2 linked regions of the Homo sapiens genome follow. The protein of the gene in region 1 purifies or fractionates together with the protein of each later gene. This does not show direct contact. Each region holds a gene or a part of one and is shown on either strand. Other genes may lie near its edges.

Region 1 (3,816 bases):
TTGGCCACAATGGTCTCGATCTCTTGACCTCGTGATACGCCTGCCTTGGCCTCCCAAAGTGCTGGGATTACAGGCGTGAGCCACCGCGCCCTGCTGGTCCTGGATTTTCTTTTTTTTTTTTTGAGACGGAGTCTCTGTCGCCCAGGCTGGAGTGCAGTGGCGCCATCTTGGCTCACTGCAAGCTCCGCCTCCCGGGTTCATGCCATTCTCCTGCCTCAGCCTCCCGAGTAGCTGGGACTACAGACGCTCGCCACCACGCCCGGCTAATTTTATATATTTTTTAGTAGAGACGGGGTTTCGCCGTGTTAGCTAGGATGGTCGCGATCTCCTGACCTCGTGATCCGCCCGCCTCGGCCTCCCAAAGTGCTGGGATTACAGGCATTAGCCACCGTGCCCCGCCCTGTCCTGGACTTTCTTAGTCCACTTTTAACGTCTCTCCTGAAAGTATCACAGGCATTTCAAACCTAACATTGTCAAAGGGGAACTCCTAATTTCCTCCCACCCCCAAGGCCACACTTTCCCAAGGTATTCCCCTCAAGGAAACTCCAACACCATCTACCCAGTTCTTCAAGCCGAAAGCCTGAGACAGTAAACCTAACGTGGTTAAGAGCATCTGCTCTGGAGCCAACCTAGTTAAAACACAACTTTGTTATTTATATTAACTATGTGACCTCGGGCAAGTTGGGTTCTTCTGAGACTCATATGCCTTAAAATAAGTAGAACACTTAGAATAGTAAGTTCTAACTAAATTACCACACAGTAAATTTATAATTATTCTTTTTTTTTTTTTTGAAATGGAGTTTCGCTCTTGTTGCCCAGGCTGGAGTTCAGTGGTACAATCTCCCCTCACCGCAATCTCCGCCTTCTGGGTTCAAGCGATTCTCCTGCCTCAGCCTCCCAAGTAGCTGGGATTACGGGTATGCGCCACCAGGCCCAGCTAATTTTTTTGTATATTTAGTAGAGATGGGGTTTCTCCATGTTGGTCAGGCTGGTCTCAAACTCCTCACCTCAGGTGATCCACCTGCCTTGGCCTCCCAAAGTGCTGGGATTACAGGCGTGAGCCACTGCGCCTGGCCTACAATTACTGTTCTTAATGCCTTATTTCCTAATTCCCATCAGTAACTCTTTTTTTTTTTTTTTTTTTTTTTGAGATGGAGTCTCGCCCTGTTGCCTGGTCTGGAGTGCAGTGGCGTGATCTCGGCTCACTGCAACCTCCCCCTCAACTTCAAGCGATTCTCCTGCCTCAGCCTCCCAAGTAGCTGGGATTACAGGTGCCCACCACCACGCTCAGCTAATTTTTTTGTATTTTTAGTAGAGACGGGGTTTCATCATGTTGGCCAGGCTGGTCTCAAACTCCTGACCTCATGATCCGCCCGCCTCAACCTCCCAAAGTGGTGGGATTACAGGCGTGAGCCAATGCACCCTGCCTTCCCATCAGTAACTCTTATTGTCAGTTCTACCACCAAACATCCTGCATCTGTCCACTTCTCTCCATCTCTACAACTGCTACCCTCATCCAAGCCACTTGCATCCCTCCCTGCCTTAGTATTTCCTCCCTTCTTCAGTTCTTCCCCTACGATCCATCCTCCACAAAGCAGCCAAAGGGATTCTTTCAATATATAAAACTGGCCGGGCGCGGTGGCTCATGCCTATAATCCCAGCACTTTGGGAGGCCAAGGCGAGCGGATCACGAGGTCAGGAGATCAAGACCATCCTGGCTAACATGGTGAAACCCCGTCTCTACTAAAAATACAAAAAATTAGCTGGGCATGGTGACGGACGCCTGTAGTCCCAGCTACTCAGGAGGCTGAGGCAGGAGAATGGCGTGAACCCGGGAGGCAGAGCTTGCAGTGAGCCGAGATGGCGCCACTGCACTCCAGCCTGGGCAACAGAGTGAGACTCCATCTCAAAAAAAAAAAAATTAAAAAAAAAAAAAAAAAAAAAATATATATATATATATATATATATAACCAAATATAATTCCTCTGCTTCAAACCCTCCAATTTCTCCTCATTACACCTTAGTTAAAAATCCAAATTCCTTTCCTTGGTCTTAAATGCCCTACACATCAGTGATTCACAACCCTAGTCATATATTAGAATCATCTATGGAGGTTTTTAAAAAATTATTCATGCTTAAGCTCCATCCTGGACCTATTAGGTCAGAATCTGGATGTGATGCTCACCAAAATTTTAAAAGCCTACCAGGTGATTCTTCTTTTTTGTCGTTGTTGGAGACGGAGTCTCACTCTGTTGCCCAGGCTGGAGTGCAGTGGCGCAATCTCAGCTCACTGCAACCTCTGTCTCCCGGGTTCAAGCGATTCTCCTGCCTCAGCTTCCCAAGTAGCTGGGATTAAAGGCGCCCACCACCAAGCCCAGCTAATTTTTGTATGTTTAATAGAGATGGGGTTTCGCCTTGTTGGCCAGGCCAGTCTTGAACTCCTGAACTTGTGATCTGCCTTTCTCGGCCTCCCAAAGTGCTGGGTTTACAGGTGTGAGCCACCACACCTGGCCAATTTTTGTATTTTAAGTAGAGACGGGGTTTCACCATGTTGGCCAGGCTGGTCTTGAACTCCTGACCTCAGGAGATCCACCTGCCTCAGCCTCCCAAAATGCTGGGATTACAGGTGTGAGTCATCTCGCCAGGCCTTTTTTTTTTTTTTTTAGAAGGAGTTTTGCTCTTGTTGCCCAGCCTGGCATGCAGTGGCATGATCTCGACTCACTGCAACCTCCAACTCCTGGGTTCAAGCTATTCTCCAGCCTCAGCCTCCCGAGTGGCTAGGATTATAGGCATGTGCTACCACACCCGGCTAATTTTTGTATTTTTAGTAGAGACAGGGTTTCCTCACGTTGGCCAGGATGGTCTCAAACTCCTGACCTCAGGTATCTGCCCATCTCAGCCTCCCAAAGTGCTGGGATGAGCCACCGCGCCCAGCCTCAAATTGACTGATTTAAAAGAATATTTATGTAGTCTCCTCCCCAAGAATCTGGCACACAAGTTAACGAAGAAAGAAGCGGCTCATGGGTAATGGGTAGGAGAAACCAAAAGAGAAAAAAAATCCATCTACCAGATAGCCAACTTTGGTCCAGCAAGAGGTTTCCAATCTGAATCTTGGCACTCTAAATGGGTACTAAATTGAACATAAAATGTTTCCCAAATAGACAAACATAAAACACCTTCATGATTCTTTCAGACTGAGATATTTTAAGAAACTTTAAAAGGAAATAAAAAATCTAAGTAACTGAATGACCAAGACTACTACTAATGTAAGTTCTAGTGGTACCACTTTACATCTAGAAATGAAGGTATTACCTTTGGGATATCTCCCTTAATACCTGGAGGGAGCCGCAGGATCCAGAAGTTCCTGTTGCGCAGCAGGTTCTCCAAGTTCTCCAGCCGCCTCTGCAGCAGCCCGTACTCCTGCAGCAGGGTTCCCAGCACGGCCCACTTGCCCTCCAGCTGGTTCCCAAGCTCGGTAACTGTCTTTTCACAGCTGGCTAGTTTCTTCTCTGCTGTCCCTGTCCGACCTTCCAGGTGTAGGAGTCGCCGGCTGTGGATCTCCACCTTCCTCTCTATAGCCTGCACGGCGGCCACCACTGTCCACAGAGAGATAGCTGCTGTCTGCAGGTGTGCCTCATTTGCTGCTGGGGGTGTAGGAAGAGGAAGGGGCTGCAGGGATGTAAGGCACTCGGAGTCCCATTCAGATGTCTGCATGCAGTGGAAAGATGGAACAAGACATTGAGTGTTAGAAGGAACCCTAACTCCAAACTAAAATCAGATAAGGACTGCTTAACTGTCCAGCAGAGATTAATTTGA
Region 2 (3,816 bases), on another chromosome or scaffold:
GGACAGGCATGGACTACCCACATTTAAGGAAAGCTTCAAGAGTGAACCATAGAGACCAAGACAACAAGAATAAAACAGCTTGGAGGAAATAAAGGCCAGGTAGGGCGCAGAAGAGAACTTCAAACGTGAATCAAAATCCTTGTAGAGTACAAAAATTAGCTGGGCATGGTGGCACCCGCCTTTTTTTTTTTTTTTTTTTTTTGAGATGGAGTCTCGCTCTGTCACCCAGGCTGGAGTGCAGTGGCGTGATCTCGGCTCACTGCAAGCTCCGCCTCCCAGGTTCACGCCATTCTCTTGCCTCAGCCTCCCAAGTAGCTGGGACTACAGGCGCCCACCACCACGCCCGGCTAATTTTTTGTATTTTTAGTAGAGACAGGGTTTCACCGTGTTAGCCAGGATGGTCTCGATCTCCTGACCTCATGGTCCGCCCTCCTTGGCCTCCCAAAGTGCTGGGATTACAGGCGTGAGCCACCGCGCCCGGCGAAAAAATCCTTATAGAGGCTGGGCCCGGTGGCTCACGCCTGTAATCCCAGCACTTTGGGAGGCTGAAGCGGGCAGATCACGAGGTCAGGAGTTTGAGACCAGCCTGGCCAATGTGGTGAAACCCCGTCTCTACTAAAAATACAAAAATAATTAGGCCAGGCGTGGTGGTGCATGCCTGTAATCCCAGCTGCTCGGAAGGCTGAGGCAGGAGAATGGCTTGAACCAGGGGGGCAGAGGTTGCAGTGAGCCGAGATCTTGCCATTGCACTCCAGCCTGGGTGACAGAAGAAGACTCCATCTCAAAAAAAAAAAAAAAAATCCTTACAGAGCTAAAGCACTGCACTCATAAATCAAGACCAGAATATTCTTTTTTTAAAGGAATGTAACTGGGCGCAGTGGCTCACGCGTGTAATCCTAGCACTTTGGGAGGCCGAGGCGGGCGGATCATTTGAGGTCAGGAGTGTGAGACCAGCCTGACCAACATAGTGAAATCCTGTCTTTACTAAAAATACAAAAATTAGTTGGGTGTGGTGGCAGATGCCTATAATCCCAGCTACTCAGGAGGCTGAGGCAGGGGAATCTCTTGAACCCGGGAGGCGGAGGTTGCAGTAAGCCGAGATCGTACCACTGCACTCCAGCCTGAGTGTGACAGAGTGAGACTCCGTCTAAAAAAAAAAAAAAAATCCCAACTTCTCAGGAAGCCGAAGCGGGAGGATAACTTGAGACCCAATCTGGGCAACGTAGCAAAACTCCATCTCTAAACAATTTTTAAAGAATTAGCCAGGCTTGTGGCACATGCCTGTAGCCCCAGCCACTCAGGAAGCTAAGGCAGGAAGATTGCTTGAGCCCAGGAGTTCAAGGTTGCAGTGAGCTATGATCGCACCACTGCACTCTAGTCTGGGTGACAGAGCGAGACCCCATCTCTAAAAATAAAAAAAGAAAGATAAAAATATAAATTTGGTTCTATTAAAATAAAGAGCTGCTGTTTATGAAAAGAAACCATTCAGACAATTAAAAGGCAAAGCACAGAGGGGGAAAATATATTCACAATGTATTTATCTGGCAAAGTGCTCATATCCAGAATATATAAAGAACTCCTACAAATCAATAAGAAAAAGACAAACGACTCAATATGACAATTGTCAAAATGTTTGAACAGAAACCTCACAAAGCAGGATATCCAGATGGCTAATAGCCTTATGAAAAGGGACTCAACTTTATTAGTCATCAGGGAAATGTAAATTAAAGCCACATGGAAAGCAGATCAGTGGTGGTCGGGGTGTGGGAGGAGGAATGACTGCAAATGGGCATCGTGCAATCAGTGCTTGTCTGGGGCAGTGGAAATGTTCTAAAACTGGATTGTGGTGATGGTTGCACAACCATACACATTTGTTAAAAATAAGCTGAGCCGGGCGTGGTGGCTCATGCCTGTAATCCCAGCACTTTGGGAGGCCAAGGCAGGTGGATCACCTGAGGTCAGGAGTTCGAGACCAGCTTGGCCAACATGGTGAAATCCCATCTCTACTCAAAATACAAGAAGAAATTAGCTGGGCATGGTGGCGGTGGGCATCTGTAATCCCAGCTATGTGGGAGGCTGAGGCAGGAGAATCGCGTGAACCCAGGAGGCAGAGGTTGCAGTGGGCCGAGATCACGCCATTGCACTCCAGCCTGGGCAACAAGAATGAAACTCCCTCTCAAAAAAAAAAAAACCCTATAAAAGAACACTCAAAAAACAAGAGCTCTTGGAACTTAAAAATATAGTTACAGAAATTAAAAATTCAATAGATATTTTAGAAGATAAGTTGAAGAGGTCTCCGGAGAGTAGGACACAGAAAGAAAAAGAACCGAAAAATAAGAAAGAAAAGTGTAGGCCAGGCATGGTGGCTCACGCCTGTAATCCCAGCATATTGGGAGGTTGAGGCAGGTGGATCGCCTGAGGGCAGGAGTTTGAGACCAGCCTGACCAACATGGTGAAACCCCATCTCTACTAAAAATACAAAAAATTAGCCAGGCGTGGTGGTGGGCGCCTGTAATCCCAGCTACTAGGGAGGCTGAGGCAGGAGAATCGCTTGAATCCGGGAGGCGGAGGTTGCAGTGAGCCAAGATCACACCATTGCACTCTAGCCTGGGCAACAAGAGCGAGACTCCATCTCAACAACAAAAATAGATAAATAAATACAGTTAGCTGGGCATGGTGGCGCGTGCCTGCAGTCCCAGCTACTTGGGAGGCTGAAGCAGGAGATCGCTTGAATCCGCGAGGTGGAGGTTGCAGTGAGCTGAGATTGTGCCATTGTACTCCAGCCTGGGCAACAAGAGCAAAACTCATCTCAAAAAAAAAAAAAAAAAAGGCAATTATGAACTTCAAAACCATTTGAGCAAAAAGGGAAAAAATAATCATAGTTACTCTGTGGCTTAACTAGGAACACTATTTATATGTGTTACTATTTACAGCCATATCACATTGTTTTAACCAAAGACTACAGACACTACTCACTTAGAAAGAGGCAAGGAAATGTGTGTATTGTGTGGGCAGGGAAGAGAATGTAAGACAGTGAAACCTTCTTACAAAGTCAATAGATAATGTGTGAAATGGCAAAACAAAGAAGTGGAAATATGTCATAGAGAAGAAAACACTAGAATAAAAAGGCACAGCTGGCCCGACGCCGTGGCTCACGCCTGTAATCCCAGCACTTTGGGAGGCCAAAGTGGGCAAATCACCTGAGGTCAGGAGTTCGAGACCAGTCTGACCAACATGGAGAAACCCCGTCCATCTCTACTAAAAATACAAAATTAGCTGGGCATGGTGGCTCAACGCCTGTAATCCCAGCTACTCGGGAGGCTGAGGCAGGAGAACTGCTTGAACCCAGGAGGCGGAGGTTGTGATGACCTGAGATCACGTCATTGCACTCCAGCCTGGGCAACAAGAGCAAGACTCCATCTCAAAAAAAAAAAAAAAAAAATTAGGCCAGGCGCAGTGGCTCGCTCCTATAACCCCAGCACTTTGGGAGGCTGAGGCGGGTGGATCACCTGAGGTCAGGAGTTCGAGACCAGCCTGACCAATATGGTGAAACTCCATCTCTACTAAAAAAATACACTCCTATTACCCCAGCAATTTGGGAGGCTGAGGCGGGTGGATCACCTGAGGTCAGGAGTTCGAGACCAGCCTGACCAATATGGTGAAACTCCATCTCTACTAAAAAAATACACTCCTATAACCCCAGCACTTTGGGAGGCTGAGGCAGGTGGATCACCTGAGGTCAGGAGTTCGAGACCAGCCTGACCAATATGGTGAAACTCCATCTCTACTAAAAAAATACAAAAATTAGCCAGGCCC

The links.
Region 2: the proteins of ZNF398 (region 1) and FERMT3 purify together in Homo sapiens (affinity purification with mass spectrometry; one large-scale study listed by BioGRID and IntAct). This does not show direct contact.

Annotation. Positions count from the first base shown.
Region 1 is NC_000007.14:149,153,837-149,157,652, reverse strand, and holds part of ZNF398 (zinc finger protein 398), read right to left. Parts: intron 3,709-3,816; coding exon 3,313-3,708; intron 1-3,312. UniProt on the Homo sapiens protein: Functions as a transcriptional activator.
Region 2 is NC_000011.10:64,213,182-64,216,997, reverse strand, and holds part of FERMT3 (fermitin family homolog 3 short isoform), read right to left. Parts: intron 1-3,816. UniProt on the Homo sapiens protein: Plays a central role in cell adhesion in hematopoietic cells. Acts by activating the integrin beta-1-3 (ITGB1, ITGB2 and ITGB3). Required for integrin-mediated platelet adhesion and leukocyte adhesion to endothelial cells.